4 linked regions of the Homo sapiens genome follow. The protein of the gene in region 4 interacts with the protein of the main gene of each other region in a pairwise test. Each region holds a gene or a part of one and is shown on either strand. Other genes may lie near its edges.

Region 1 (6,512 bases), on a different chromosome or scaffold from region 4:
TACATTTAAATAATTTGTCTGTAAATCTCAGTGGGATACCTGAATAAAAGAGTGGGCCAACCATTAAAAATGATAATTACATGATTACAAATCTCTTATTTTCATTAAATATAGTTTGCTTTAAATTATTTCTTTATGACTATTCCAAAACAAATAGAAAAATTTTCTTTGATTCTAAAAACCACATGACTGGTAACATCCATATTATGAAAACAAATCATCCTATATGTTACTGAGTGTATGGGTTTTTTGGTGAACACAAGTCTTGTTCCAGATATTTGAATTTGATAATGTTCACAGATTCTAGAATTTTCTTTGAATGCAAATACACTTGGAAGTGACACATATACAGAGAAAACCAAACCCTCAATTTTCCTAAAAAAATCCAGACCTATAGCATTGCTAAAATAATCATAATTTAACTTTTTATATTAGGAGTACCAAAGTAAGCCAATATTTAATTCTGTGACAGAGGAGTATGAAAAAGAAAACCCAGTGGCTATGAAAACAGAGATCTAAAAATTTAATGATTTAAAAATAGCCTCTACATACAAGACGGCAAAGAGTAATACAGATTGAACATTTGGTTTTAAAAATGTGAAATGTCTCCACTTAGCGTAGATCAATCAAGTCAGCCATCTCCTAAGAAATACACATTATACAATGAAATCTACAAAGACACACTTTTTAACTTCAAGCGTTGTTGATTTTCAGCAACCCTCTTCCCACATGAACATTTCCTTGTAATGTAATGTATGACTTTTAATCTTCTTTTGGCAGAGTAGGACTTTGAGAATTATAATAGCAGTTGTTTTGAAAAGCACCTTCTATGATCATTTATTTCCACTGATTTTTTTTTAATCACTCTGAGATCATGCATTCTTGTTTTTTAAATCCTTTTCTGTTCCAATGATTTGGTTGTTTAAAACAAGCAAGCTTAATTCAGTCAGGCATATATTGCAAATAAAAACATGTTTCCAAGTAGGCTGGAATAAAAATGCTAAATAAGAACTGGGCCAAAAGATCATAGATAATGTGCTTCTTCTCTTGGTAATATGTGAATACATTTACCCATGGGGTAGAAGTATTTCACCTGCCCCATGAAGAACCTGATGGCTTGTGGTGTCTGTGCTGTGTCAATACTAACAGATGTGAGGAGACAGACTATGGAATGGACGCTGTGACTATCTGTGAGATAGTGGAAGGGGTTATACACACTGGCCACAGGAAGTTGCAAAAATTAGATGGACTCTGTGTAGCTAGCCACTCTTGAGTGTCAGGTCTGCATATGTGAGTTTTAAAGAAGGTGCAAGATAGCAATAAATTCCCTTAGAGAGCAGGATATGTCCTGGTAGCTCTATAGTTCCATGATCAAGGACCTGGCCAGTTTCCCTCAGGTAATGGGGGTAGTAGCACCAAAGTGAATATTAAGAGTCAGAAAGGCCTCTACTTGCAACTGGCGGATCAAACCATTCCCCTATTTTGGTGAACAATCATAGTCTGATACGCCTTTGTAAATCTTTGCTGCAAATATGGTTTTTACAACTCTAAAAACATCTTTTGGAAAACCTCATGACTGAACCACTCACAAATGCAGAAGATTGAACAGCCCCAGGGAGGCAATTGCTCTCCTTTTATTGTAGCTGTCTCTCAGTATTGAAACAACCCAATCCTAACTGTGGTCCTGGCCTCTAAACACACAGGTCTCTCTTCCCTCCAGCACCTGAACTATCAGAGCTTGGATCCACATATATATTCTGAAATTTGCTCCGCAAGAGGGCTTTTGGGCACTTGGCCATCATGTGTTTAAGATGGTCAGTTTTGAAAAGAGTTTTCCAAACAAGAATAAGTCATGCTATGCCTCATGATTTGGAAGGTGAACACTTGCAAATAAACTATGCTTCCCAGATTTGGGAGTGCCAGGCTCAGAATCATCACAAGGACGTGGAGAACAATATTATAACCAGCTGGTATGTTTTTAACAACAACAAAAAAAATGCAGCATTAGAAGGTGCTTACTAAGGTGCTTCGTAATTCATGGTTTTTTTTTTAATGAAATGCATCAGACAAACATCTACAAACAAACATGAATACATGGGCATACAAAAGCACGTGGACAAGTTTTCTGTACAGTTTATGTCTCAGATACTTCTATGTATACATAAGAACCACTCAGGGGGAAAAAAAAAGATTTCCCTCTCCAGCTCCCTGAATTTCTGAAAGTTGACTGACCCATAAAATGTTAAAATATTTCATTTTTATATAAAATATCTACAAAAATAGATAACATTTACAAAAACCAGACAGTATTTCCAGTTTTCCTTAGTAACCGTTAACGCAGTCCCCTTCCTCTTTTTTTTCTTCTCAGAACGTTGCCATCTCCAGCAAAGAGCGCTTGAACAGCTGGGCATTTCTAGAAAGGTCTGTCACTTGGTGCACCATTTCCTGCAGGGCCGTGGTGCTGGGGTAATGGAGGGCGGCCATCTTGGTTGCCATGACTATGGTCTTGAGCTGCTCGCAGAGCTGGTTGCTGGAGTTCATGACTTTGTTGCGAATGTCCTGGGCAGTCACCTGCCGTGTCAGCGTGTCTCCAATGAACACCAGTTTGTGTGCACTGAGGATGACAAACTTGCTGTGTGCCACGAAGATTCGCGGGGGCTGGGCTGAGCTGACACAACTGAAGAGTGCGTCAATGGCGTTGAGAAGGGAAATGAAATGGGTCTCACATTGGTCATAGTAGAAGCACAGCAACTGCCGATCCTGAGCACTCACGCCACTGTTTGTGGTGGGTAGGCTCTGAGAGGGCTTCCACTTCGAGATGTCATTCTCCACGGGCTTTGTAATCTCTTGTTCCAACAGCTGGAACTGGCTCAGCTGCAAGGAAGACGAAAGCAGATCTCATTAGAGCAAGGGAGTGTGTTGCAATGGAAATTCACTAGGCCTTGGAGTTAAAAGACAGGGATTTTAGTCGCTAGTAACTGTCAGATGCATGTGAGCTGTAAAGCCTGGGTCAAGCTGCCTTGCTTTCCTAAATTGTAAAATGTAGACGTTGGGAAAGATGATCCTCAAGCTCAGACCTTCTATGATTGGACTACTGGTCTCTTGTACCCTCTGGCTAGAAGGTAGCATAGTGTTTAAACCGCAGCCCTGTTACCTACACCTTTATGGAGGTTAAATGAGTTAACGTTTACAAAATGCTTATAATAGTTTGGTATGTAGTAGGCTCTATGTAAATGTTTATTAATGTTGAGGGGTGGCAAGGGAAAACCAAATGTAGTGACCTCCTTGTCAAGTAAGTCACTGACAGTTTGCTCCTTCTCGGAGAAAGCCTCGACTATCTCAGGATGCTCAGATGAAATGACCATTCATGACCCCTTTCTGTTTATCCTACTCTTTCTGTCAAGATTGATAGACATGTTATGATCCAGCACTACAGGAAGATTAATGCATATAAATATATGAGCACTTAAGGAAAAAAAGTTTCTAAGGCAGTCTGAATGGGAATTGTGCATCATAATATTTAGTCCCCCAGAGCTGTTAAAAGAAGGGGGTTTTACCCAGAGTCAGATGCATCAGGTGCTGGCTTTCTTCCTTCTTTCCTCATTGCTACCAAATGGTGTATTATTTAAATTGCAATTATAATAATTTCTAGGGATTCCACTAAGACTCAAGAGAGACCTCTCTTCTGCAGATAAGGACTATCTGTGACCTGAGCTTCAGACTCAGTTAATCTCCCACCTGGACGTAGGGATGAGCTGGAGCAGTGATCACCTCACCCAGCTTCCCCAGCTTCTCTGAGAGATGCACAGCCAGCTTTACTTTACTTTTCTTTTTTTTTGAGACAGAGTCTTGCTCTGTCACCCAGGCTGGAGTGCAGTGGCACGATCTTGGCTCACTGCAAGCTCCGCCTCCCAGGTTCACACCATTCTCCTGCCTCAGCCTCCCAAGTAGCTGGGACTACAGGCGCCCGCCACCATGCCTGGCTAATTTTTTGTATTTTTAGTGAGACGGGGTTTCATTGTGTTAGCCAGGATGGTCTCGATCTCCTGACCTCATGATCCGCCCGTCTCGGCCTCCCAAAGTGCTGGGATTACAGGTGTGAGCCACCGTGCCCAGCCTTCAACAGCTTTACTTTTCTAGAATCTGTTTTCTTCTTAGCGATTGCTATGGTTTCTACAAGTTCCCCAAAGCCCTGCAGTCTTACCTTGCCAGATGCCAAGGCAAACATAAATAGGTACAAGGTGATATTCCAAGGTATTTAATCATAATGGATTATATTTTATATATCTTAGGCTTTATGCAAATATGTTCATCAATATATCATGTCATTAGATGGGGGGGGTACTTTCCCATTTTATAGGGAAGTAACTGAAGCTCGGGGAGGTTACCTGACTTGACATAGTTGGTTGGCCAGAAAGGATTAGAACTCAGATTTCCTAAATATAGCATGCCATTTCATGTCATTACATGCCATTTCACTTCATTTCATCTTAAAAGGCTTGTAAATAAATCCTCAATCCATCTCTCTTTATTTGTATGCCCTTGTTCTAGCAATAGTCGTCATTATCTCCCCTACTCATACCCAGCTTTTGAATGAACATGCCCTGCCCAAAGTCCTCAGTAGATAGGCCTGGATATATGTTGAAAACATTGAATTCTGCTCTCCTACCTTTAGATTGGACCAAGGCCAGGCAAACCATAGGCTTGTGTTGCTGGCGAAAGAGAGACAAATAGCGAGGTAGAGACAGAAAGAGAGAGAGAGAGAGAGAAAGAGAAATGGCCCAATCAACGTGGCCCAATCAGACTCTTTCTTGGGAATCTGATGAACAAGAGAAGGGAGCTAACCATCGGAAGAGGAAGCCGAGATGAAAAGCCATCTATAGAAGTTCTGAGTGGCCATTTATGGGTTCTGCAAAGTTACAGGGGAGCCAAATGAGTAGATAATTAGAGAAAACCAGAAAATAGGTGAGAGTGAAGTAGACTGATAGAAAGAAGCAAAGGAACTACAAGAAGGAGAGATAATTTACAGTTCTAGTTCTCCCCAGACCTGGCTCTATCTTCACTTTCTGTTACTGAATTCCCCTACTGTGGCTTTACTATAAACCTGCTTGCTTAGGCTAGCTTGAATGGGTCTTGTTTCTTGAGACCAAATGCCTTAACCCAAATAGTCCTCATATGTTAGATATGCAGGTTTAGCCTTTAAAAAAATTGCCGTTTAGATGGAACCCAGGTACACCCAGTTGAACTAACAAGGTCATAAACCTTCTCTTTGCTTTTAAACCCCATTCCGTGCTTTGGAGCTGATTCCTGCCAGTGAGCTGGAAGAATCAAAATCATAATCTCTTGAAGTGATACCTTTCCTTAGTGCTAGGTGGGAAATCTTTCCAATGCCAAGCAGTTTTTGCTCTGATTGAACTTACCTGATGATGTTCCAGCTGCATCTTGTTCTGTTTCATGATATTCTCTTTTTCCAATAGCTCTTTCTGTTGCCTCTCAAACTCCTCCTTACCCTGTTAATTTTCAACATAAAGAACATATTATGTCATCACTGTGATTCACTTATGCTAACAATTTCATTGACGGATGAGTAAATACTCTTTATTTTCCACTGCCTTGGCAACATCTCAAATGCCCAGTGAGGCACTGTGAACCCTAGACGACAGGGGTGGCAGAAAAATAAAGCCCATTGCCATATAGGGTGCCAGCTTTCTGGGGCACCTTAAAATTTTCGGAGAGCTACTCATGATTCCCTTCAAATCTCATATATAATGTTCTTTTTATAGTCTCTGGGTTCTTTTCTCATAGATTATATGTGAACCTGTAAACCCCCAAATGCAGGTCTAAATGTGGTCCACCTCTCACTTCTAGTTCCCTCAAATCATCTATAGATTTCTGCTCCAAGGCAGTAGTTCCCACTGTGCAGGGTCAGACAACCAGTAAGATGAATGTTCAATGCCTCCATCCTCTCTCTCTCCACTTCCTTCCTCAGCATCAGGTGGGGCTCAGTTCTCCTTGCCACACTTTCTTGCGCTTGAGGGAATTTGGCATAATAGTTACGTAGTTCTCAGTATAATCTGTGACTCTCAGTCAAATTAAAAGAATGGCAGAATAAGATAGTAAGCCTAGTCCTAAACAATGGATCTTGGTAGATTTTTTTTTTTTTTTCTGAGACAGAGTCTCGCTCTGTCGCCCAGGCTGGAGTCCAGTGGCACGATCTTAGCTCACTGCAACCTCCGCCTCCCAGGTTCAAGTGATTCTTCTGCCTCGGCCTCCCAAGTAGCTGGGACTACAGGCGTGCATCACCATGCCTGGCTAATTTTCGTACTTTTAGTAGAGATGGGGTTTCACCATATTGGCCAGGCTGGTCTTGAACTCCTGACCTTGTGATCCACCTGCTTCAGCCTCCCAAAGTGCTGGGATTACAGGCGTGAGCCACTGCGCCCAGCCAGTAGAATGTTTTAATCCCTCAAAGTGGAAGGGAAAGCTGTCGGAATCCCAGGTCAACTTGGAGC
Region 2 (8,641 bases), on a different chromosome or scaffold from region 4:
TCCGCTCCTTGCCTAGTCAGTCACAGGCTGAGACTGTCCAACCTACATCCACAGGCTCATGTCAACAGTCCTTTCTGCCCAACCCAATCTCGTAACAGGACTCACTGCCACATACAATGATGGAGCTGGTCTCATCAGTGCTAAACTCACACCCTGTGTAGAGGTGTTACAACTTACGTAATAAACACTCAGATAACAACACTGGATGCAGACACCAATATCTCAAATAATCTCACTGATGGTTGGGTCATGACCACACGTAGGCCACAGGTGTTCATAAGGCATTCCTTTACTCCTGGGCTGAAAAGCAAAAATCCAAAGTTAAAAAAAAAAAAAAAACCACCATAAAAATGTGAGCATGAATTATTTCTTGTTTTATTGCTTTCTTGTTTCTTTCTTGATGCAGAGTCAATGTTTTTGAGTAACAGTAATAAGATGCCCAAAATCCAACAGTAAACATTCAAATAGTAAGATCTGATGCAGAACAAAGTCCTCAAATGTTAACTCCTATAAGTTACATCTAGCGGAACCACGAGGGATAAAGGCTGAACTCATCATCTTGGTTTATGATGGAAACCGCTATCCTCTGACCCAGGGAACAGGAGGAAGTCTCGAATGCCAGCCACCTGTTTAGGCACTGGTGGCAGCACTGTGGTCTCCTCGTGAAATGGCCGGGGAGACTCACAGTGAGTCTAAGTATGGCAATCTCTCCTTTTACCCCAGGATTAAGAGATGCCCCCCGCAACTGAGAGAATCAAAAGAAACTCCTATGGAATAGAAGACGTGGTTACAGTGATAAAGATCAGAAATGATTGTGTTGTCAAGGAAGTGACCTGTGACTGCACAGAACCCCATCTTTGTGAGAAAGCAACCCACTCTTAAGTGCACATCAGAGAGGCTTTACACAGTGACTGGCTGCAAGCAGGACAACCGTGAGCAGCATTTTGCTTGTTGAAGGCACAGGTCCTCGTCATCCTGAGAGAGGAGAGTCACTGTGTGCGACCTCTGAAAAACTGTCAGCTGTCATAAATCTGACTGCAGTTTCAGCCTGATCTTTTTTTTTTGAAAGTCCCAGACTCTTGGGGCACCCCTGAATATCTTGATGTGCCTACTCCTTCTGCAAGAAGTCAGATTTCCAAGGGATGGAGACTCAAAGGAACATGATTGCATTACATCACACAACAGGCAAAAATAAATACATGACTCTATAGTATGGGTATGAAACTACCACAAAGAAATATCTCAGACCCCACAACTGCAGCTCACATGCTAGCAATACCTGGTAGGGTCTAAAAGGTGTCAGCTGTCCCATAAAGCATTTACCTACTATGACTTTGATCAACTGTACTTATGGGATAAGCAAAAATGTATGAAAACACTCTATTTTTTTTTTAAAGACAAACTTCCTTAAATACCAAAGAGAGAGATCCATTTCACTTGACAGTGATCAGGATATCCAAATTAAATAAATCATTTTATTTAATTTGATGATCTTCAAATTCAATAAAGTGATCTTAAACATTCAAATAGTAAAATCTGATGTAGAACAAAGTCCTCAAATGTTAACTCCTTTAAGTTACATCTAGTGGAACCACGAGGGATAAAGGCTGAACTCATCATCTTGGTTTATGATGGAAACCGCTATCCTCTGAGCCAGGGATCAATGACCCAAGATCACTGATCTTCCCAATGATCATCTTAGGTTTCCATAACAAGAATGGGCGAGAGCCAACTGCACCTTGCCAGGGACGCTGAGGGTGTAGTCGCCACACAAACCCTCTCGGAAGAACGATGGACCCACGCCTTTGCCTGAGGCATGATCTCGAGCTCTTCCAGCTTTTGAAATTCCACCGTATTGTGAATGCTCTTTACAAACACAGTGACACTCAAAAAGGAACCAACAAGAAAACATAAGTTGCATTTATTCACGTCCACGCCATCTAAAGCTACTGTGTACAGTAATCAGGACTGGAGAAGGGACGATTTAGTATCTAAAAACAACAAAAAAAACACTGGGACATGCCCCCTGAATTGCAAGTTGGAGTTCGTAAGAATCTACTTGCTGGCAAGCCGGTTTCCTCCCTGAGAAGCACACTTCCCGCTTCCTTCTCTCCTTCCAGCGTCTTCTGTCCCTCTCAGTTAAGGCCTGGACAGTGTGGGATGGTGTTGCAATCTCTCCTGCAGAGCTGTCAGTCGCCCGTGGGCTCGGGCTGCGTGCACTCAGGCTCCCGGTCGCTGGGCTCTGCGCTCCGCCGCCGCAGCTCCTCCACCGTCTGCAGCAGGGCCGACCGCTCCAGTTCTAAGGTAAGCATGGCCTGCTTCAGCTTGCTCTCACTGCTCAGGAGCTTCTCAATGGTGGCCTCAAGGCTTTGGATCCTACCATTTGCCACCTGGAGAATAAAAGAAGAAATGAGAATACAATTGCCAGTGCTAACACAGGTGGGATCCAGTGCCCACACGCTGTCCAGCCTTGGGAGCACTCTGGAGCCGAGTTTCAGCAGGGATGAGTCTACAGTTTATCATCAGTTCTGGCCACACAGGAAGGCAACTCGCACCCCTTGCAGGTCGGTGGCCAGGCCCTTAAAAGCACCCTGAGAGCCCCCAGCATTTTCTTCTCCTGCTATGGCTGCTGTGGAAGCCGATGCTGAGATGGTGGATCACAACACAGAGGGAACCCAAACCCCCAGGCACCACCACCAGAGGGACAGCTTGGATAGGGCCAAAGAATGCTTCAGCAACACAAAGCTGAAGTGGGCGTCAGTGACACAAAGACTTCCGTTGTGCCAAGCCTCGGAGACTTGTAAGTTTGTTACTGCAGCAGAGCCTGGCCTGTTTTGATGAGCACATATACTTAAACGCACAAATCGATTTCGGGCTGACAAAAACTCAAAACAGTTTCCTCCTGAAGGCCCACGTGGTAACAATCCTCTAATCTGAAATTCTTTACAAACACAATGATACTCAAAAAGAAACCAACAAGAAAACCTAAGTTGCATTTATTCACGTCCACGCCATCTAAAGCTACTGTGTAAAGTTAGTGATGTCTAGAGGAACAAGACATCACTACGTCAAGAAACACAGGCATTTACCCCGGAACACATATGGAGTCCTTAGAAAGGCCAAGTGTTCTGCTAAGAGGTTTATGTGCCTGGTCTCACTGACTGTTCACTACGAGCCATGGAGACAAGCAATATCCTCTCTTCCACCCTACAGAGGAGGAATGAGGATCTCACTCAGTCTACATCCTCAGCACCTAGCACATAATTAATGCTAGTTAAATAGAACTTCCAGGTGTATCTTTCTAGCAACTGTCCCTCGTCTCTCTAATTTGCTCTGGCAGGCTTGCTTCCCAGGTGACAAGTGTGTTAGCTCTAGTGACATTAAAGGGTTCCCTAAGAAAACTGCAGAAACTCCAACATGTATGCTGATGTCCCTGAGGCCTTTCTGACCTGTTCCCCAGCTCACAGCTGCATCCTGGAGTGCTCTGTGACTTGGTCTATCTCACTAATCCAGTCCAGATTTGCCATGCTCCATTTTAGGTGGGAAAAATGGTATATATATACACATATATACACACACACACACACACACACACACACATATACACACACACGTATATATACACACACACATATATACACACACACACACATATATATACACACACACATATATATATATTTTTCATTTTTCAAACAAAGAAAATACTTTTTTGAATGTGACAACACTTGTGCCAGAAAATTCATGACTCGAAGTCTAGCTCTGGCTGGGCCACTAGAACACCCAAAATATGAAAAAGGGACCAAGAGCCTTAGTTTGTCAGCCTACTGGGCAAGGGGTGGTCCCACTTGGGGTATCTCTCTAAGCTGTACTCTCTGATCCTCAAAATCCACCCATCGTCAGGGCCTGGCTCAGGGCCTACCCTCATCACTTTGAAGCCCCTCTGCATTCCGAGGTGCAACCTGCAGCTTAGTTAGTAGTGAATTAATTTGCATGGTCATTTGCTATTCTGCATTAATGTCAGGTCTCCTCAATAACACCGATGCTTTTATAGAAGCAAGCATGTCTTCTCTTTCACACATGGTCCTGTCTCCCACAGCACCTGGCTCAGTGTGGGCGTCAATGACTTGTACGGATTATGACAAATCCATGTGCATTATTATTTGGTTCCATCTGGCACGTCTATGCAATCGTCTGATGTACTGCTGAACAAAAGAGGTGGTAGAATTTGCTCTCCAGCGTCTAGACAACGTTCACATGTATTTAACAGGGAATGAAATGGGATTTTGATATTTCTAACAATTTTATGGACAGAATAAAGGTAGGAAATGGGTTGATTTTGGTATTTTGGCCCCCCCAGAAAAGCTATATGAAAATTCAGTACTGTATTGAACACCCTTCCTTGTCAGTGTCTGAAAAGTGTACACGGAGGAGGCATGATTCTTACATATGAGAGGCATATTTTCGTAGGGGATCATGGAAAAACTATATCCAAACACCACAAATCGATACAATACAATCCTAGATCCAACTCTTTGAGAGCTGCAGTGTCTTACTCAACTTGGTGGCCCCCAGCACTCAGCACTGCAGGGACTCAGGAACTACTGGTGGGTTGGCATAGACCACAGTTCTGAATGATCCTTCCAGAAGTGTAGGACTACTTGGTCAAGAGAACGACCATTCCAGGGAGAACATCTGTAATCACCAATTACTGTCTGATGCCTTTATTGAGGAATGTAGGTAGCTAAGCAGTTTTTCACAGCTCCCTGTCTTCACAAAAACAATAGCACAGGAGCAGCATGAAATTACTTTCTATGCTCTGTCACCAAAAAACTACAAGGTCATTTACCCAATAAAACAAACCTTTTATTTGAGAACTGCCTATCTTAACAAGCTAAACACTTCAATGCAAATGTGAGCTTTATTAGAAGTTTCCACCATGTTATATTTCAGGGACCTATCATTGGCTTGGAAGCCATTTAAAATGACCACCTACACTGTGTACCCCTACAGGCCAGACAGGCTCTTCACCCTCTGGAGACTTCCCTTGAGTGATGGCTGAGACTTCCAGGGTAAATTGTATACAGGCATATTTTCAGTTAGGACATCTCAGGGGAAAAAAAGAAGTTAAATTTCAGAATGTGAGTGGTTATTAGGGCTGGGCAGGAATAGCATTCGGTCTTGGTTCCTCTCTTTCACATATCTGATAGGGTATGCTGGGATGGAATGCCCGCTGGGAGGAATGCATTTCAGATAGCTTGACTCACTAGGCTGGCCTTTCTCACCTTGCTGCCAAGCTTGTGTCTGCAAAGCTCATCTTTCTATGAAGAAAAATCAGAGGCTTAGATCAGAATGGAACTTATTCTCAGGACAGCCCAGGAACACCATAAAAATTTCGGCAAAAATATGTATTTTTATCCACAGCCACTCAAAAACAACTTTTAAAAACACCCTCAAAACAACTCCTTAACAGGGACAGCACTGCTACACACTTGTGACATTAAAAAAAGTAGAAAAAAGTAGAACATATGGTTGCTTCATGCCATCAGATTGACAAAAGAGCTGCACTCCGCAGTTAGGTGTTCTTTTGGGCAGTGTGCCTGGGTGATGTGGGGGTGGGGGTGATGCTGGACCTGGCCAGCTCTGGTCTCCGTGCTGCACCTCAGTGCTTGCTCTGCACACCCTCCTGCGTGCACAGTCTCAACTGGTCTTTCTTCTGTATGTCCTCACCTGAGTATATCCGTGTTGAAATGGAAGTTTCTAGAGGGGAGAACTGAGACCTTCATTAATCAAATCTTTGTATATGCACCAAGGACTCACAAAGAATTATCATCTCTTCTGGTTTGTTATATTTATTTCTGTGTTACTTTCCTCCTTTACCATCCCTCTGTGGACCTAGCTGGTTTTGCTCATAGAAGTTAAAAGCTCTTAGATTCTCTTTGAGTAATGACAACGGCTGGCATTCAGCTAACAGGCCACGGCATCCTGAATCCAAGTTCATCTCTGGGCCTGTCCCCTAAAAGAGTTAAGTGCAGAAACAGCCTCTCAGAAAGCTCTGGGACTGCCTGACCTTAGCAAAGGACAATCTGTCTGCTCCATAATAAAAAGGACCCATTCTCCCGGGATACCTTTGATCCCAACTATAAACAGATCAGGGTGGGAAAGGTCCTCTGGTCATGGGAAAGCCCAGCCTGCTGTTGCCTTTGGTGAGTTAATGAACTACCATATATTTGTGATTCAGGAAGCTGCTTTATAAATATGCTCTACCTGCAACTGTTCAAGGAGGTCAAGGTTCTGTTTGCGTAAGCTGCTGTTGGTTTTCTCTAATTTATCCATTCTTTGGTTGTCACTGAGAGGAGAGGAATCGATAAGTTCTTCTTGAAGGACGTGGTACTCAACTTCATAAGCTTGTAACTGTTTAGCGATGTCCATTTCAAATACCTGTTATAGAAAGAAAAGTCATCACGTACTAAAACTGAGAAAAACCCCACAAGTACAGGCAGGCGTCTGCAATCACGACAATGCGCACCTGTGAAGCGTCTCCTCTACGCTTAGCTCTACACTTGGTACTAGAAGTAATAAATAAGAAAAACTACGCACTGAGAAGGTAATAATTTTACTTGGGACAAAAGGATATAAGAAACATCTAGAAATAATTCCAAGGTAACATTAAGTACAGGTTTTTGATACTCACCTTCCAAAAGCCAAAAAAAAAAAAAAAACCTCTCATTTTTAAAGACATAAAAATTTATTTTTAGTTCTTATTTCACTTCTTTTCTCTGAAAATTCTGTTAGGTTAGATACATCAACTATGGGTTAAAAGGAGAAAAGAAACAAAAGAATCATAGCCTGTTTGCAGAGTCACCAAGTCAAAGTTTAATTATAGTTCAGTTGGGTTTTCAGAGTTACAAGAACAGCTAAGTAATGGGACTGTTTACTAAAAAACTCTCCTTTGCACACAAATATGCAGAAATGAGCCAAAACCCACATGTCACCCACACAGATGAGTGAATACGAAACGATGCCTGAGTTGTCTTCTTTCCCACAATAGTAATGGTGACGAAAACACCACACGTGTGAAAAACAACTCCTAAGTGCCTAAGTGACTCAAGCCGTCCGTGTCTGTACTTTCTCTTGGTAAGGAAGGCAGGGCGGAAAGCAGAATCAGAAGACAGCTGCTGCTGCTGCTGCCCAAGGCATTTCCTTTCTTTCCAGTTGTTTCTATGAGAGAACCCCAGGGGCTGGGGCCTCTCAGCACAGCAGTGAAGCCCTAACGTTTATCTGATGGATCTGAGAATGCAGTCAAGCTGGGACCATCTTAAAAGAAAAAAAAAAAAAACCCTGCTAGATCAGAACACACATTCAGAAAGTGAAGTCAGGCTTTAAAAGGGCAGAAACTGCCTCTCTATTGCATTGCCTTAAGCAACTCCAATATTGTTAAAAATCAGTGTAAAACTACTTCTTCTGATGGCTCCCTACTGGCATTCAAACTAGCCTATCTTCCCTGGAATCAATTTTCAAAAACCATGTTTCCTTTCTCACCATTCCCAACAATCTTATTTTCTCTTCCTTGAGATGAATTTTTCAGCTTGCTGTTTTTGATTCAGTGGATAATATTAATAAGGCACAAAAGTCATTTGATGCCTAAAAACTAAAATCCATTATATCTGTGGGGTGTGTGTGCATGTGTGCGAGGGGAGTAAGAGGGAGAGAGAGAATTGTTTACTGGATTGAACTGATTCTCTTTTGTCCTTCAGAGCGACCGTGAGGTCAGCAGGGATTATTATCTCCATTTGACAGCCGAGGTAACTGGCTCAGAGGCTTTGAGTCAGCCTTAAAATTGCGGCTCCACTGGCGACTCTATGAATGACTTGAGCTCGGTACTTAACCTCTCTCAGCCACAGTTCCTGGCCTCCCACCTGGGGCAGACAGCGCCTACCTCCCAGGATGGCTGTGAGAATTAAACGAGGCAACTCCTGGAAGTTCCCAGCACACGCCTGGCAGGTTGAGCAGGCGCTCTCTTAGCTAAGGGATCTGCTTCCACACACCTGCCACAAAACCCTCACATTTCAACCTCAGCAAAACCATCATCAATGGATGCCACGTCATGGAACTTCTGAATAGTCTGAACAGTAAAAACCACAAATGTTAAAACTGAGATTGTTTGGCACTCATGTATAATTATAAATATGGTGCTGAATAAATGTCATGTACACTATTACTTTTTTTCTTTCACAAAGATTTAAGTGATCTCCTAACCTGGAAAGCCTGGGAACAAAACCTCTGGCTTTTCCTACGGATTGATGTTCTGTGTTAAGTTAATGGCTCTCAGCAGTACCCAAAGCCATAAACTCTTCCAGGCCTCCATTAATCCCTAGGAACCACCCTGGGTCACAATCATCTCTGCTTAATTGCCTGATGATCTCCTGACTGCCAAGACTCCTAGGCCCTTCATTCTGCAGTTATGCCCCTGAATTTACCCCAAACCATGGCAATATGAGGCTGGTGGTCAAAGGAGAACCCTGGTCACTGAACGAGGGCTTCAGCCCTTGGGCTAATTACTTGGGGAAAGAAAAGAATTGGGAGGGGCGCCTGTCCTTGCACACTTAGACAGCACAAGTGATCCACTGCCAGGAGCAGT
Region 3 (8,641 bases), on a different chromosome or scaffold from region 4:
ACCCTGGGCAACACAGACAGGCCCTGTCACTACAAACAAAAAATTTAGCTCAGCATGGTGGCACGTGCCTGTAGTCCCAGGGAAGCTGACAAGGGAAGATCACCTGAGCCCAGGAGTACAAGGTTGGAGCGAGCTATGATTGTGCCACTGCACTCCAGCCTAGGTGACAGAGTGAGACCCTGTCTCAAAAAAGTTAAATTAAATATCATATTCCAGATAATAGTGCTTGCATCAAAACCCTGAAGACAAAGAGATTTTAAAAATAAATTTACAGTGTATATTTTCTTTTTACCTAGATCTCCATTAAATTTAGATTTAACTGATTTCCATCCATAACAGTGTTTTTTAAGTATGTTTATATTAGAAAAAAAATCAACTACATGAACTGTACAGTATCATTATAAGCATGTATATTTATTTAGTCACATCTGATAAGTCACTGTCTTTCAAACTACTGATCAGACATAAATTAATACTCAGCTAAAGCTCTGAATCATTAAGTTCAAACACCAATTTAAATGAAATTTGCATGTTCTAGGCACCCAAATACATCTTAAAAGACAGCCAAAATATGTAATAGCTACACACTCAAAAGCAGTGGCAATATTAATTCACCTATCACTTTTACCTAACACTATTCTTGCCCAAAATGTTGGGATAAAATTATTTTAGAAAAATTCAAAGTACATGTCTATTAATATATCTTGTTTTTGAAAACTAATGCCAAAAGTCTGCTGATAAATACTTGAGATAAGGTAAACACTTTCATAATAACATGATGAATGATTTTTTAATCAGTCATATTAAATTAAAATTGGAAAGATTACACGACACTTATTTACTCAAACCATAGGAGGTATTATCATAACCAAGCAAATATAATTCATTCAAAGATGACTGTTTAAAACTTGAGAATACATCACTAAGAAAAAGCAAAAAGGGTAAAACAGTTATAGTAGCAAGGAATCTTCACAACCACAACTGGGCCAAGACTTTGTCCTCTAGGAAAGAAAGACAGATAAAAAGCTTAATTTTCTCAAGAGTTGGTTTCATTATGGGTTACTACTTTTAAAAGCTTGAAAAAAATTATACCTACCTTTACTCCATGTCCAATATCATCTAGAATTGTATAGTCAATAGGTTTTCTAATATAACGAACTGGTCGTTCAAGGTTGGCTGGAGCAATAATCTTATGTGTCCTTGAAGTGTTTTTATTGGTAGTCAAAATACCAATTTCTCTTCTTGCAACTTTCTCTTTATGAATATCAACTGTCTGCAAAATATAATGTAAAAAACAACACAAAAATGTATAGTTCTAATATCCACAAAAATCAAAATATATATGCCTAGAGATTTAATATTGCTACTCATATTCTAAACTATGCTTGCTAAATTTTTATTCTTCTGGACTACTGATTTTCTCCATTTTTAGGTTAAAGCAAGGGCTGGTAAACCATGGCCCACAGGCCAAATCTGGCCCATCATCTGATTTTTACAGCCCACAAGCTAAGAGTGGTGTTTACATTTTTTAATGTTTGGAGAAAAGAACAACCAAAAAAAACCTTCACGTGAAAATTATATAAAATTCAAATTTGCTTTTCCATAAGTAAAGTTTTATTGGAATACAGCCATGCCGCTCACTTGCTTATCTGTCTAGGCTTTACACTGTAATGGCAGAGATGAGCCACAACAGAGATGGTATGGCCCACAAAAACTGAAGTATATATTAGCTGGCTCCTTTACAGAAAAGGTTTGCCAACCCCTGGGTTAAAGCATGCTAATTTTTCCCTCTCCATTAAGATTTAGACTAATATAGTGATTAAGAAAGCCCCCGAAATTAATCTAGTTACATTTCTAATGACCTATTAGTATAATTTCTATTCATGTTTAAACATCTTTTTATTTAAAAAGAAAGAGGGCTGAAATATAATGTTAAAAATAAAGCCAGGCACAGTGGCTCAGGCCCGTAATCCAAGCACTTTGGGAGGCCAAGGTGGGCAGATTGCTTGATCCCAGGAGTTCATGACCAGCCTGGGCAACATGGCGAAACCCCGTCTCTACAAAAAGTAGCTGGGTATGACAGCACATGCCTGTAATCCCAGCTAACTGAGAGGCTGAAATAAGAGAACTGCTTGAGTCCAGGAGGTCAAAGCTGCAGTGAGCCATGAATGCACCACTGCACTCTAGCCTGGGTGACAGAGCAAGACCCTGTGTCAAAAAACAAAAAAGCCATTTTTTGACCCCAAAAGACCAAGTTGCTTGGGCAAAGCTGCTTATATTTTATCATGACAAAATGCCTGTAAAATATTTCATTAATTTATTTATATTTATTAAATGCTCACATAAGACATACGAGTAAGAATGTATTGTAATTACAATCTTCTATTTGCTAACAGAGGGTGAATTTCTCCACATACACAGGTAATTAGTACACTAAAGCAAAATTTTTTAAACTGCAAGCTGCAATTTAGTGGTATGTAAGCAGCAATTATTTCAAATCAAATAGAACAGAAACATCAGACTGCATGTACACATAGTAAGGTAAAATACTGTTTCTTGAAAAGTCTGTTTATTATATATATAAATATATACATGAATTATGTGCTGAATACAACGTAAAAAAAATTTTTTCCTGTGTGTCGCAGTCAAAAGAGTTTGAAAAATCACTTCACTAAAATGGTTCACATCTCTTACCACCAATTCCTGGCTCAAGCAGCAATCAACAGACACATTTTTTGCTAACTCCTCCCCAGTCCCACTTCAATGTCCTACTTCAATTTCCCCTTTCTAAAAGAACCTGGTAGTAACAGTGAAAAGATAATCATCATGACATTATAAAATACTGCTTTAAGAAATCTGAACACTGATCATTTATCCTTCTAAACTGCCTCAAGTATGAGGTAAGCCTGAAACAAATTCAAAGCCTCTTATTTCTCTACAACCAAGAGACCTTAAAAACAACAGGATCTATATGTTCCAGAGCTAACGAATGTATAAATGGAACATCAAATAAAAAACTAACCATGGTAGTAATCTTACAATTTTAAGTATTCAAGAAAAAAACAATCTCAGCCAGGCATGGTGGCTCACGCCTATAATCCCAGCACTTTGGGAGGCCAAGGTGGGCGGATCACAAAGTCCGGAGATCGAGACCATCCTGGCTAACACGGTGAAACCCCGTCTCTACTAAAAATACAAAAATTAGCCGGGCATGGTGGCGGGTGCCTGTAGTCCCAGCTACTTGGGGGGCTGAGGCAGGAGAATGGCGTGAACCCAGGAGGCAGAGCTTGCAATGAGCCGAGATTGTGCCACTGCACTCCAGCCTGGGCAACAGAGCGAGACTCCATCTTAAAAAAAAAAAAGAAAAGAAAAGAAAAAGAAAAAGAAAAAAAATAATCTCTAAACTTTTCTACGCATGTTAGGCTAATTATGAGAATAGCTTTCCTCTTCAACTGCTTGGGAAAACTGTAACAGAAAAGTTAAGCTTGCATATTAGTGATGATATTGGAATTCACTTAATTTTTAACTTTAGAGAAATGGAAATTAATCACATTTGGATTAAATTTTATTTTTATGAGACAGTATCTCACTCTGTCGCCCAGGCTGGAGTGGACTGGCCCGATCATGGCTCACTGCATCCTCGACCTCTCAGGCTGAAATGATTCTCCCGCCTGAGCTTCCTAAGGAGCTGGGACTACAGGCGTGTTCCACCATGCTGGCCTAATTTCTCTACTGTCTGTAGAGTTGGGGTTTTTCCATGTTGCCCAGGCAGGTCTTGAACTCCTAAGCTCAAGTGATCCACCCACCTTGGCCTCCCAAAGTGCTGGGATTACAGGAGTAAGCCAATGTACTGGCCTTGAATAAAGTTTAGTGAGTCATTCTAAATCATTAAAAGTATGGGCTAGAAATACCATTTCATACCATCAAGTATGCTTCAAAAAATAAAATATGACACTTTTTTTATAAAATGGGTCTTCGTCAGATCAATAAAAGGTTCATCAGATAACACAATCCTCAAGACATTGTTTTTATTCTCCTCAGTTTTTAGAAATGTACTTAACTTATTCAGAAATGAAACTATAAGAGTGTAAACCTGAGCAGCCATAACAGAATTACAAGCTTATAGCTTCTATTTCACATCTGCATACTATAAATATACATTTTTTTGCAACAGGTTCTCACTCTGTCACAGAGGCTGGAGTGCAATGGGACAATCATAGCATACTGTAGTCTTGAACTCCTAGGCTCAAGCATCCTCTTACCTCAGCCTCCTGAGTAGCTAGGACTACAGGCATGTACCACCATGCCCAGCTAATTTTATTTTTTGTAGAGATGGGATGTCACTGTGTTGCCCAGGATGGTCTTGAACTCCTGACCTCAAACAATGCTCCTGCCTCAGTCTCCCAAAGTGCTGGGATTATAGGCATGAGCCACTATGCCTGGCACATACTAGAAATATTAATAAATCTCCAGAGAATGAACAGGGAGAAGTAATCTTCCACTTATTATTTACACTAACACACAGTAATATTTTATAACAAGCACATATTTCTTGTTTGAAAAATTGAGACTTTAAAAAAGCATTAAAATATAAATTAGAAATCTGTTCATTTGATCTTATAGAGATGTGACTTGGTCTAGGGATTGGGGACATTTACATATTACCCACATGTTCTCTTCATATACACACAAACACACACTTAGCCCAAACCCATAGACCATAACAGTAAAAAAAAAAAAAAAAAAAGGGAAGACCAATACAGTAAATAGAAAGATAACAATAAGCCTAAAATAAAGGGTCATTGTTATAATAGAGCAAAAAAATTGGCACTAAGCCTCCAGGGAGAGAAGGCAAAATAGAAACATAATGAGTTACGAGGAAATATATCAATTCATCAGGAAAGTGAAATGTTTCCCAGGATTAAATTCTTTAAAAATATATTTGTTGTTGCTTTTTATATCAAATCTCAGTAAAAACTGAAGGCATGTTTTTTAAACAGCATAAGTATACAGAAAGTCAAAATAATTTAGTTTGGCTATATGATGTTTTTAATTGTCTACTTCAAAGAATGCCTACATCTTAGAAACACTAGGGGCAGGGTAACTCAACAGTGGCACTATTGACATTTTGGGCTTGATAATTCTTTGTTGTGGGCAGGGGTGAAGGCTGCTGTCTTGAGGATTGCAGAATATAGAAAAGCATCCAGGTAGATAACTGTAGCACTCCCCCACCATGAGATGTGACAACCAAAAATGTCTAACATTGCCAAATGTCCCCTTGGGGGCAAAACTTCCCTGGTTGAGAACCAAAGATCTATAGAGGAAGGACTAATTAGCTGGTCCCTTACCTCATTCAATCTCAAACTGCAATTGTTTCCAAATTTGGTCACAAAAGTCGACTCAAGATCAACGCCTCTAATTTGCCTAAGTATAGATATTTTAAGTAAATAACTTTTAAAAAACATCTATAATAATAAAGGTAATCTAACAACGGTATAATTTGCATTCTTGCCATCATACTACCACACGGGGTTGAACTGCAGTATTGCCTGTGGGCAGAAGAAAACATGCCTTTAGAAAATGGCTACGGTTCTATTTGGAGTTTGAATAATTTGACAGAGAGCACTAAATCTATTTCATAAACAAGCAGAAGATTCTCAGGTTGGTCCAGAAGATTCTAAGGTTTTCAGCAATCATCTGCTTCAATTTTTTTATAGCTTTCACTTGTAGAAAATAAGCATATTCAAATTAGATAGAATAATAAACACTCCCTCCTCACATCTATCATGCAGCTTTAACATTCATAAATTCGTAGACAATTGTCAGTTGTAAAAGAAATTTAGGAAAGCTCCTGTAACATATTCTTAAATAAAATATGGCTACTATATTTTTCCTACATCAAATTCACAGTATCAGTAATTATGGCATTTGCCCTCATGATATTCTTTGACATTACAATGTTAAATTTCATTAAGTTAAATTTTGGAAGTACAAGTTCAACACTGATATTTAGGATGAATTTTAAAAGTAAGAAAAGTATTTCAAATTTATTCTGGGTTTTTTAAGTTACTAGTTATATGACAATAAACCTACTTATTTAGAAGAGACCTCAATAACAGCACTCACCTGTGGCAAGTAAAAAATGTGTTCTGCTAGCAATCAAAGATGACCAAAACTAATTCAAATACACAATTAATATAATTATTGTTTGCTACAGATCCCATTAACCAAAAAACACACCAAGATATATCACTGCAATTGTATAGGACTTAATAAACAACTATTCTCCCACAGTTCCTTATTAATTAGCTTCCCCATCCTTCTCACTGATATTGCCAAGCTGATCTTGCATGCTGCAGGCTTTCCCCATGACACTTCAGCCACACAGTGCCAAACCCAGGTTCCTTAAGGATACCTCTTATGGCCTTGAGATAATCATACTGACTCCCAGCTCCTTTGCAAGCCTGAGCCCCACTCCCACATCTCCCTCATGAACCCAAGCACATGCTCAGGCCACAGCAGATGACAGGAAGGTACTGTATAAAATATTTTGTTTTAGGATTATCCATGCATTGTCATTTCCCATTACCACAGATAATTGAAAGTTGACTGTACTGGATAGCACTACCTCAGTTAGCTGCCCATCAGTGTGGGAAAACATCTGCAATCAAACAGTTACAGTGGATTAACCCAACTAAATTGGGTGTTTTTAAATATGTCTCAATTTTTTTTATTAGTAAGCTAATGTTTCAAATAAACATTTAAATTACAATTATGCTTCAAATTATGTATCATTCATAAAACAAATTAGTTACTAACAGAGTAATTTTCAGTTTTTTTATATAAAGTGATATAAAAACTACATAGGAAATTAATTGGGAAGTATAAAAAGTCTACTTTCTATGCATAATTACGTATTGATAACCTTCAGTGTATCTCCTTAATTAAAATTGGAAATTCCTTTTTTTTTTTTTTTTTTTTTGAGACAGAGTCTCGCTTTGCCACCCAGGCTGGAATGCAGTGGCACGATCTCAGCTCACTGCAACCTCCGCTCCCAGGTTCAAGCAATTCTCCTACCTCAGCCTCCAGAGTAGCTGGGATTACAGGTGCCCACTACCACACCCAGCTAATTTTTGTATTTTTAGTAGCGACAGGGTTTCACTATGTTGGCCAGGCTGGTCTCAAACTCCTGACCTCAGGTGATCCGGCCACCCTTAGCCTCTCAAAGTGCTGGGATTACAGGCGTGAGCCACGGAGCCTGGCCAAAATTAGAAATTCTTAAGCAAGGCTATCTATATAAAGTTTTTGTGTTTTGGGTTGTTGAGACAGTGTCTCACTCTGTTGCCCATGCTTGAATCCAGTGGCATGAACATGGCTCACTGCAGCCTCGACCACCTGGGCTCAAGTGATACTCCCGCCTCAGCCTCCTGAGTAGCTGGGACTACAAGTGTGCACCACCACACCTGGCTAATTTTTGCATTTTTTGGAGAGATGGAATTTTGCCATGTTGGCTAGGCTGGTCTCAAACTCCTGACCTCAAGGGATCCGCCTGCCTCAGCCTCCCAAAGTGCTGGGACTACAGGCATGAGCCACCACACCCAGCCTAAAGTTTTTAGACAGTAAAAGCTACCCTACTTGTTGAGTTCTTAAGGCCACTGCCTTTCAATACCTAGCTCTTGAGAAGAATTACTTCCAATTTTATATTATTTTATGATAATTATTTTCCAGCTCCTTTAATTGTTACCTGCTAACTAATTTAACACCTGGCCCAGTAAGTCCTACTCAGCCCTTGGGAAGGTGGGAAGAGCACTACTTTCTTAAGTTCTTTATGTTGCCTTTTGACCTTGCTTAATCTTTTTTTCTAAGCCATGACAAACTTGAACATGGATAAGTACTGACTAATTTTACTAGCAAAGAAAAAAGATGGGCCTCGCTTAGAAAAATTTTAGTTTAGTCTCCCTCTCCCTCTCCCGCTCCCTCTCCCTCTCCCTCTCCCCACGGCCCATGGTCTCCCTCTCCCTCTCTTTCCACGGTCTCCCTCTGATGCCGAGCAGAAGCTGGACTGTACTGCTGCCATCTTGGCTCACTGCAACCTCCCTGCCTGATTCTCCTGCCTCAGCCTGCCGAGTGCCTGCGATTACAGGCGCGCGCCGCCACGCCTGACTGGTTTTCGTACTTTTTTGGTGGAGACGGGGTTTCGCTGTGTTGGCCGGGCTGGTCTCCAGCTCCTAACCGCGAGTGATCCGCCAGCCTCGGCCTCCCGAGGTGCCGGGATTGCAGACAGAGTCTGGTTCACTCAGTGCTCAATGGTGCCCAGGCTGGAGTGCAGTGGCGTGATCTCGGCTCGCTACAACCTCCACCTCCCAGCCGCCTGCCTTGGCCTCCCAAAGTGCCGAGATTGCAGCCTCTGCCCGGCCGCCACCCCATCTGGGAAGTGAGGAGCGTCTCTGCGTGGCTGCCCATCGTCTGGGACGTGAGGAGCCCCTCTGCCTGGCTGCCCAGTCTGGAAAGTGAGGAGCGCCTCTTCCTGGCCGCCATCCCGTCTAGGAAGTGAGGAGCGTCTCTGCCCAGCCGCCCATCGCCTGAGATGTGGGGAGCGCCTCTGCCCCGCCGCCCCGTCTGGGATATGAGGGCGCCCAGC
Region 4 (8,641 bases):
AAAAGTTGAGGAAAAAAGACGTTTATTTTCGAAGGAGCAAGAAGGTCAATAGCTGACTTTACCAATAAATGGGGCCAGGTTAATTAGCTATCCATATGCAAAACAAACAATGAAAATCAGAAGACAAGGTAATCATATCTTCAAAGTGCTGAAAGAAAATAACTACCAATCCAGATTTCTACTTATAGAGAAAATACCACTTACAACTGAATCAAAAGAAATACTTAGAGATAAACTTAACAGAAGATGTGCAAGATTACTAAACAGAAAAGTCTAAATCATGAGATGATTTAAAGATGATCTAAACAAATGGAAAGACATGCTAAAGTTCATGGTATGGAAGAAAATACTGTTAAGATGGCAATTTCCTAAAACTGATCAATATATTTGCTGTAATAGATTGTATCAAAATCTTAATTGTTTTCCCTTTTGGGGTAGAAATAGACAAGTAGGTAAATTTTATGAAAACATAAAGGGCCAAGAATGGGCAATACAAACTTGAATAACAACAAAATAGAAACACATTATCATATATTAAAAATTATAGACCTACCATGATTAGAATGATTAAGTAGCAACACAAAAATAAATAGACCAATAAAATAGAACAGAAGGTACAGAAATTGACACAACATACGGACATTTGATTTATGGCAAATATGTCTCTACAGAGAAGCTGGACATTTTCTATTTTCATCAACATAACAAAAAAGCTTCACTTTCTACCTCACACCACACACAAAATTCAGTTCCAAATGAATTGTAAATCTACACAGCAAAGGTAAAACAAAGTTTCTAGATGATATCATAGAAGATATATCTTCATTATCTTTGAGTATAAACAATTTCTTGCACATGTCACCAAAAAAAGCATGGCTCATGAAGGAAAAATGATGAAATAAACTACATTAAAATTAGGAACTTGTGCTCAATGAAACATTCCATTAAGAGAGTAGAAAAAGCCAAGCAACTAAGTAGGAGAAAATATTCTAAGCACATACAATTATCAAAAAGCTTTATATGCAGATTACATGAAGAAATTAAGCAAATCCATTTAAATAAATAATAAAGACAAGCCAGTAGGCCAAAAGACAAAAAGACTTGTACAGCTCTTCACAAAAGAGAATATACAAATACCTGATGAAAAAATGCTCAGTCATCAGGGAAAGGCAAATTAAAATAAGATTGCACTGCACAATCATCAAATTTGCTAATATCAGGAAGTTACACCATACCAAGTGTTGGTGAGGATGTGAAGCACCTTGAACCTTGCTGCTGGTCAAGGTGTAAACTGGTTCAACCACTGTGAAAAACTATCTGTCAGAATGACTGAAGTTGAGCATATGTGTAGCCCATGACCTTATGTCCCACTCCCAGGTACATATCTAGTAGAAATGTGAATTAATGTGCACAAAAAGCATGTACAATAAAGTCCATAGCAGCATATTCATAAAAGCACAAACTGGAAAAAACACAAATATCTATTAACCAGGAAATGGATAAATTGTGGTATATTCCTACAGTGGATTTCTATATAACAATGAAAACAAATAACAGATTCTCACAATAATATAGGTGAATCTCACAATGTAATTGAAAGAAGTGAGACACAAAATACATTCTGTGTGGTTCAAAAAGGGCAAAACTAAAGGGTGGTTTTAGAAATCAGTGCCATGTTACTTTGGGAGAAAAGGATAATAATTGGAAGGAGACATAAGAGAGGCTTCTGAAATGCTAATTATATCTGCTACTTTGGGCAATATCTATATGGATACATTCATTTTATTAATTCATCAAGCTGAATAGTTATTACGTATGCACTCTTCTAAATGTATGATTTTCTTCTATAAAAAACAACTCTTTAACAAAACTTATTAAACTCCCATCTAAAGATCTGAGTGAACACTTGCTCTGATCACAGGAAATAAAGTATTTAAATATTTACCGGTAAAAACAAACAAAAAATTTCTAAGTAAAGATCAAGCATTGAGTCATTATTAATATTTGCATCTTAGCTGCAAAGTGAGTATTAAACTTCTTCCTTAAAATGTAATCACAGAAATAAAAATGTTTGGATAATTTTGCTCTCTACTGCACCCCCCACAATATTTTTCAGCTACTACTGAGGTAATATTTCAAAATGTGAATTGTATCAATAATCTAATATTAGAAGTTACCAGTTGCTGATTGCCTGGGAGACAGCTGTTAAATGTTGGGATACCTACCATCCATATAACTATGCAGCGCAGTTAACATCGTTCCATCTTGGGGCACGTAGGCAGAATAAGCCATTTCTTCTAACATGGGTGGAGACAGCCTGGAGGGTGGGACTGCTGTGACTGGGGTGGAGGATGAGTGATTAGGACTGACGTGTTTCTTGTGGCGTGCTCTACAATTCTGAAACCACACCTGAGCAGGGAGAAAAGCAACAGAAGTAGGTAGGTTACACACCAGCTTCTGAGCACATTATCAACTCAGTTAAAAAATGAATGCAACCTCAATCACACTACCACACAAGCACCGCATAAATGTAACTCAGCTTTTATAAAAGTTCTATAGACAGAAAAGAAACATTTTAGTCCAAATAACAGTGGTCATTTTTCTTGCTCAGTTGATAGCTCTCTGGTGATTTACCTAAAAGCCAATTCTATTTAAGTAGGAAAGGGGACCAATTGCTTAAGGGATTTTGGTTTGTTGAATTTGAGTTGGTCAAACGTTAAGGTTACCCCTTGAATGCAATTATTAAACTCTATTGGATTTGACTGGGTGCTGTGGCTCATGTCTGTAATTCCAGCACTTTGGGAGGCTGAGGCAGGCAGATCACCTGAGGTGAGGGGTTCAATACCAGCCTGGCCAACATGGTAAAACCCCGTCTCTACTAAAAATACAAAAACTAGCTGGCCGTGGTGGTTGGTACCTATAATCCTAGCTACTCGGATGGCTGAGGCAGGAGAATCACTTGAGCCCAGGAGGCAGAGGTTGCAGTGAGCTCAGATTGCACCACTGCACTCCAGCCTGGGCGACATAGCAAGACTCTGTCTCAAAAACAAAACAAAACAAAACAAAACAACAACAACAACAACAACAACAAAGCCCAAACAAAAGTACCCCAAAAACTCCATTAGATTTTTTAAAAATAAAAATAAAAGCCAATTCTATACTAAAACAGCATCTTCCCCAGAAAAGGTGGGGAAGGGCCCTCAAGAATTCCAGAGAAATCTCCTTGGTTTTACTACTGGTATTTAGGACAAAAGGAAAAGCAGAAAAAGCTCTTTTAATCAGAACTTAAAAAAAAAAAAAAAAAGACTACTAAATGTATTCTTAGGCACCTGCTGGACTTATTTCAAATCCTTGTTCAAATGACTAAAATCCCTACTGAGAACTTAAAGCTTTCTACAAACCTCTTGATTCAGTTATTCCAGTCAGATTTTAACCTGCTGAGTTCAATTTCTCTTGGTGAATACATAGGCTATTCCCTAAGAAGCATGTTAAGGTCAGGTCTTTAATAAGAAAAAAACTCATAATATTTAAGTAGAATTAAATACAAACACATCCACTGATGAGAGTTCACAAAATGTAAAGTGCTAACCACCCTGCTGTCCACTCTACTGCAGAAATAAAAGAAGCAAATTCAGGGCAAGTGGAGCTTTACATCCAGGTCAGGGCAAGTAAGTCTAGGCTGCCCAGAATGCTTCCAGTAGCTAATATGCCTGTGTTTGAATTCCCTGACAGGTGATAAAACTTGACCATAGAGAGTGTTTCTTCATGGGCCGGGCGCAGTGGCTCACTCCTGTAATCCCAGCACTTTGGGAGGCCAAGGCGGGCGAATCACAAGGTCAGGAGATCGAGACCATCCTGGCTAAAACAGTGAAACTCCATCTCTACTAAAAATACAAAAAATTAGCCAGGCATGGTGGCGGGTGCCTGTAGTCCCAGCTACTTGGGAGGCTGAGGCAGGAGAATGGAGTGAACCTGGGAGGTGGAGCTTGCAGTGAGCCAAGATCATGCCACTGCACTCCAGGCTGGGCGACAGAGCGAGACTCCGTCTCAAAAAAAAAAAAAAAAAAAAAAGAGAGTGTTTCTTCATTAAAATACTGTATCACTTTTTTTCCATCACTCCAAACAATTCTGTCATGAGAGGAAAGAGAGGCGAAGGGATAAAAACTTAGCATGAGAACATTTTGGGATCAGGGATATGAGGCCAGGAAAACATCAGGGGCATAAGTCTGTTCAAGGCTGGTGGTAGGGCCTTGATGGCACAAGGCAATCAGGGCTGATTAATGTGAAATAAAAGGAAGCTGCAAAGAATTTATAAGAAAAAGCTGGCCTTACTTCAGAACTACACCCTGCCCCTGGCATTCAAAAATAGAAGGTTGGCAAAGTATACTCTCAAGAGTGATTAAAACTAAAAGAATAAAAAATTAATAATCTAGTGGGGTATATAGCCTTGAGCAGGAGGCTGAAAAGTAGCAGCTAAGGAATGTTTCTGGGACAAGACTTAGGTATCCACCAGTAAGACAAGTGGGAAGTCACAGCCTCCTCCACATCCCTGTTCTCTGGAGTGTTAGTGAGACTCAGAGATACCTATAGACCACACCCCAAACTCCACAGTTCTGCCCACAGGCTCTGGAACAATAGATGTCACTACTAACACTAGTCTCACCCAAATAGGATGACATTACTCAAACATTCTCCAATGTGTAAGGGGGAACCACTGCCACCGGCCTTTTTCCCTTATGGGACCCAGAAGACACATACGCCAGAGGACTACATATAACCTAAAACATGTTGCACTATGATTCCCAGAGTTTCTTCAAAGTATCTTTTTGTCTCCAATAAGTTATATATTGAATGGAACCTATGCAGTTGTAAAACAAAAGAAACACCATCTTTTGATTGAAAAAAAAAAACACTCAAACTTTGTAAATAAACATGAAGAAGGTATAATATAAACAGCAGAATAACTATCTTGTTAAGCAGCTTCTTGGAAAGATCATCCACAGGTAATCAAGCAGAAGGAGGTTTGCAAAAACAAAGTATCATGTAACTAACTGGTAGAGCAAAATATAGTTTAAGATTCCAGACATCAGGAAATTCCTTCTGGCATGAATGCTACCCAGCTTCAGAATCAAGTATAAGTCCTTTTGACTCTCCTCACTGACAAAATTTCCTCCTTCTTGTTTGCAAACCTCCAACAAGAGTTAACATTTTCTGAGTAACTACTTTAAATTTTTTGACTTCTAAATCATAAACTAAGCTAAAATCAGGCCATGTAGATATAATGGAAAAGCAAAATACTAATGCAGAGAATGAAACCTTTAGAAAGCCCAGACAAAAAGCCAAATATAATAATTTTGTATATGACAAAGATGGGATTTTATTTTATTGGGAAAGCATGTTTCACTGATTTAGGGAAAACTGATAGTTTATCATTTGAAAGAGAGAAAAAAATAGATAAAACCCTATCTCCCATGAACCAAGCCAGATAAATTAAAGTTTAGGCGTAAATAATTGAAACAATAAAAGTTTAAGAAAACAAAAGGCAACATTGAAATACTCTCTAGATAGGGAAGCATAAGAAAGGCCAAAACTAGACCCGGCGTGGTGGCTCACACCTGTAGTCCCAGCACTTTGGGAGGCCGAGGTGGCAGATCACAAGTTCAGGAGTTCAAGACCAGCCTGGCCAACATGGTGAAACCCCATCTCTACTAAAAATACAAAAATTAGCCAGTCATGATGGCAGGTGCCTGTAGTCCCAGCTGCTCGAGAGGCTGAGGAGGAGAATCACTCGAGCCCAGGAGGCAGAGGTTGCAGTGAGCTGAGACTGCACCATTGCACTCTAGCCTGGGCAACAGAGCAAGACTCCATCTCAAAAAACAAAACAAAACAAAACAAAAAGGCCAGGCGTGATGGCTCACTCCTGTAATCCCAGCACTTTGGGAGGCCGAGGTGGGTGGATCACGAGGTCAGGAGTCGAGACCAGCCTGGCCAATATGGTGAAACCCCGTCTCTACCAAAAAATACAAAAATTAGCTGCGTGTGGTATCACGCACCTGTAGTCCCAGCTACTCAGAAGGCTGATGCAGGAGAATCGCTTGAGTCCGGAAGGCGGAGGTTGAAGTGAGCTGAGATCGTGCCACTGCACTCCAGCCTGGGTGACAGAGTGAGACTCCATCTCAAAAAAAGAAAAACAAAACAAAAAAAAAGGCCAAAACTATCAAAAGACTGGGAGATTTAAACACATAGAAATATAAATGTTCTGTGTGGAAAAAATAAAAAGGAAATTGATGAACCGTGAAAGGTTAACATGACAGATAGGATTAATAAATATCAGTAAGATATAGAGAAAATAACCCAACAGAAGAGTGAGCTAAAAACATACGGTCTTAAAAATGAAAAAATAAACTAATTTGTTCAAGCTCATTGATAATATAAGAAACAGAAATAAAATCAATGAGATTTTCTTTTCTAACTATTAAATTGTAAAGGATGTAAAAGAGTAACAGTATTCAGGATTCTTCTGAGTTGGGGAAAAGGAACTCTTGTACGTAGCTCCTGGCAGAATAAAGTTGTATGAACTTTCTCAAAGGCAAAGAGATTTCATGTTTGTATAAAGGCCCTATGCATGTTTTATCTTTGGACTCAACAATCTCCCTTCCAGAAATTTATCCTGAGGAAACTATTGAACAAGCACGCAAGGTAGATATACAATGTTGCTCATGGCAGCATTTTATAATAGTGAAAAATTGGAAGCTAAATAAATTGTGCTATGCTCAATATATGTGGCAATAAATATGATGTTAATATGGAAGGGTATTCCTAGTACACTGATTGGAAGAAATAGCAATAGTTTACTCTGTCTCTGCACAACATAAAAATCATAATTCACTTATCTGAAAGAGTATGTGAACAGTGATTGTATCTGGATGCAGTGTGTGGGGAAAAAAATCACTCATCTTTATTCTTTGACTTCAGTATAAGGACAGTCTGCTTTATTACAAATGTCTTACTAAGCATATTTGTAACTAGGAAACGTGAAACTCTCCACGTATCACACCAGTTTCCTCCTAATCTTTGGGTGACCTAGTTTGCATATTAGAAGAAGTCTAGTAATAAAAACTCTTTTTTCTTACCTTTCTAAAATATTATGCCCAATGCTAGGAAGGAGGCTGAGGGAAAGTATGATTACTATTTGAGATCACAGTAATTCTTATAAAATACTCTGAAGGGCTACAACATATAGTGAGCCTATGTATAGATACAAATAATAAACACATAAGCATGCTAGTACTCTTTCCTTTGGAATCATATCAAAAATATTTAATGTTCAACCTTAACATATTGAAAGCCAACATTCAAAATATATTCTCCAAATGGTAGGGCTTAGGACAAAGTTAACTTGCTCATAGTACTAGTAACCTAAATGCCTGGAAATTACATGACAGATGTCTGCCTGTGTTCCTTAGTCCTTCAAATATGAAAAGCTCTAAGAAAACTCTCCTTCTTCTTTGCTTCCAACTTCAAAATGATATAAGTCATGCATCTGACTTACCTGAAGCTATCATTGTTATGAATATACAGAGTCTTAAATTAGAAGGAACTTTTAGCCCGTGGAGTCGGAACTACCTGCCAAAGAAAACTGTTCTCCCAGGCAGAGGAAACTCACTACCTTCCTTGGTAGTCCGTGCCATTTGTGTAGCCTTTCAATAATGAGAAAATTCATTATGAGTGAACACCAGTGCCTTTTTCTACATTCCGTTGCAGGGAAGCCTTTCACAAATATTTAAAGACACCTACTCTGGATATTACTCTTTCTCTTACCATCTCCTGGCCTTATCTCCAGATAAATATCCCTGCTGCCTTTAATATTATGGCATGATCTAAATCTTTCACAACCCTGGTAGCCTTTGAGGTAGTATGTTTTTCAGATTGCTTATTAGTCCCTTCTTAAAATTTGGCACTCTGAAATAAGCACAATAATCTGGATATCTGAAAGTGCTGAAGTGGTAGAACTTGTCTCCTAAGACAGCCTCATTACCTTGCAGTCAATTAAAACACTGTGAACCCTAGGTCTTTAGAGAAGCTGCAGTATCATCAGGTCTTTTCCATCTGCTTCTTCGTACAGGTGATTTGTTAATTATGAAACCTTTAGGCTTACAGAAGAATAAGTACCCATGTATCAACCACCCAAATTAAGAAACAAAATAAAATATGTGCAATGAAGACATTTGCCTTTCCCCTCCCTGAGTTTCCTCTTGCCTTTTATGGTTACTTGCTTTCACTCCTTAAATTTTTTGAACTTCCGGTGTTATTTAAAATTATTTTCCGGCTAGGCACGGTGGCTCACCCCTGTAATCCCGTCACTTTGGAAGGCTGAGGCGGGCGGATCACAAGGTCAAGAGTTTGAGAACAGCCTGACCAACATGGTGAAACCCCGTCTCTACTAAAAATACAAAAATTAGCTAGGCATGGTGGCTTGCACCTGTAATCCCAGCTACTCAGAAGGCTGAGGCAGGAGAATTGCTTGAACCCGGGAGGCGGAGGTTCCAGTGAGCCGAGATCACACCACTGCACTCCAGCCTGGGTGACAGAGACTCTGTCTCGAAAAAAAAAAAAAAAAGAAATAAAATTATTTTCCATT

The links.
Region 1: the proteins of LHX8 (region 4) and NEDD9 interact in binary tests that used the Homo sapiens proteins (3 or more experiments, as listed by UniProt).
Region 2: the proteins of LHX8 (region 4) and TBC1D1 interact in binary tests that used the Homo sapiens proteins (3 or more experiments, as listed by UniProt).
Region 3: the proteins of LHX8 (region 4) and ABI2 interact in binary tests that used the Homo sapiens proteins (3 or more experiments, as listed by UniProt).

Annotation. Positions count from the first base shown.
Region 1 is NC_000006.12:11,182,798-11,189,309, forward strand, and holds the end of NEDD9 (enhancer of filamentation 1), read right to left. Parts: intron 5,511-6,512; coding exon 5,421-5,510; intron 2,875-5,420; coding exon 2,365-2,874; 3' UTR 501-2,364; downstream 1-500. UniProt on the Homo sapiens protein: Scaffolding protein which plays a central coordinating role for tyrosine-kinase-based signaling related to cell adhesion. As a focal adhesion protein, plays a role in embryonic fibroblast migration.
Region 2 is NC_000004.12:38,130,884-38,139,524, reverse strand, and holds the end of TBC1D1 (TBC1 domain family member 1), read right to left. Parts: intron 6,442-8,641; coding exon 6,268-6,441; intron 2,391-6,267; coding exon 2,190-2,390; 3' UTR 352-2,189; downstream 1-351. UniProt on the Homo sapiens protein: May act as a GTPase-activating protein for Rab family protein(s). May play a role in the cell cycle and differentiation of various tissues.
Region 3 is NC_000002.12:203,372,840-203,381,480, reverse strand, and holds part of ABI2 (abl interactor 2), read right to left. Parts: intron 5,550-8,641; exon of another isoform or gene 5,466-5,549; coding exon of another isoform or gene 5,349-5,465; intron 1,274-5,348; coding exon 1,097-1,273; intron 1-1,096. UniProt on the Homo sapiens protein: Regulator of actin cytoskeleton dynamics underlying cell motility and adhesion. Functions as a component of the WAVE complex, which activates actin nucleating machinery Arp2/3 to drive lamellipodia formation.
Region 4 is NC_000001.11:75,150,661-75,159,301, reverse strand, and holds part of LHX8 (LIM/homeobox protein Lhx8), read right to left. Parts: intron 2,410-8,641; coding exon 2,226-2,409; intron 1-2,225. UniProt on the Homo sapiens protein: Transcription factor involved in differentiation of certain neurons and mesenchymal cells.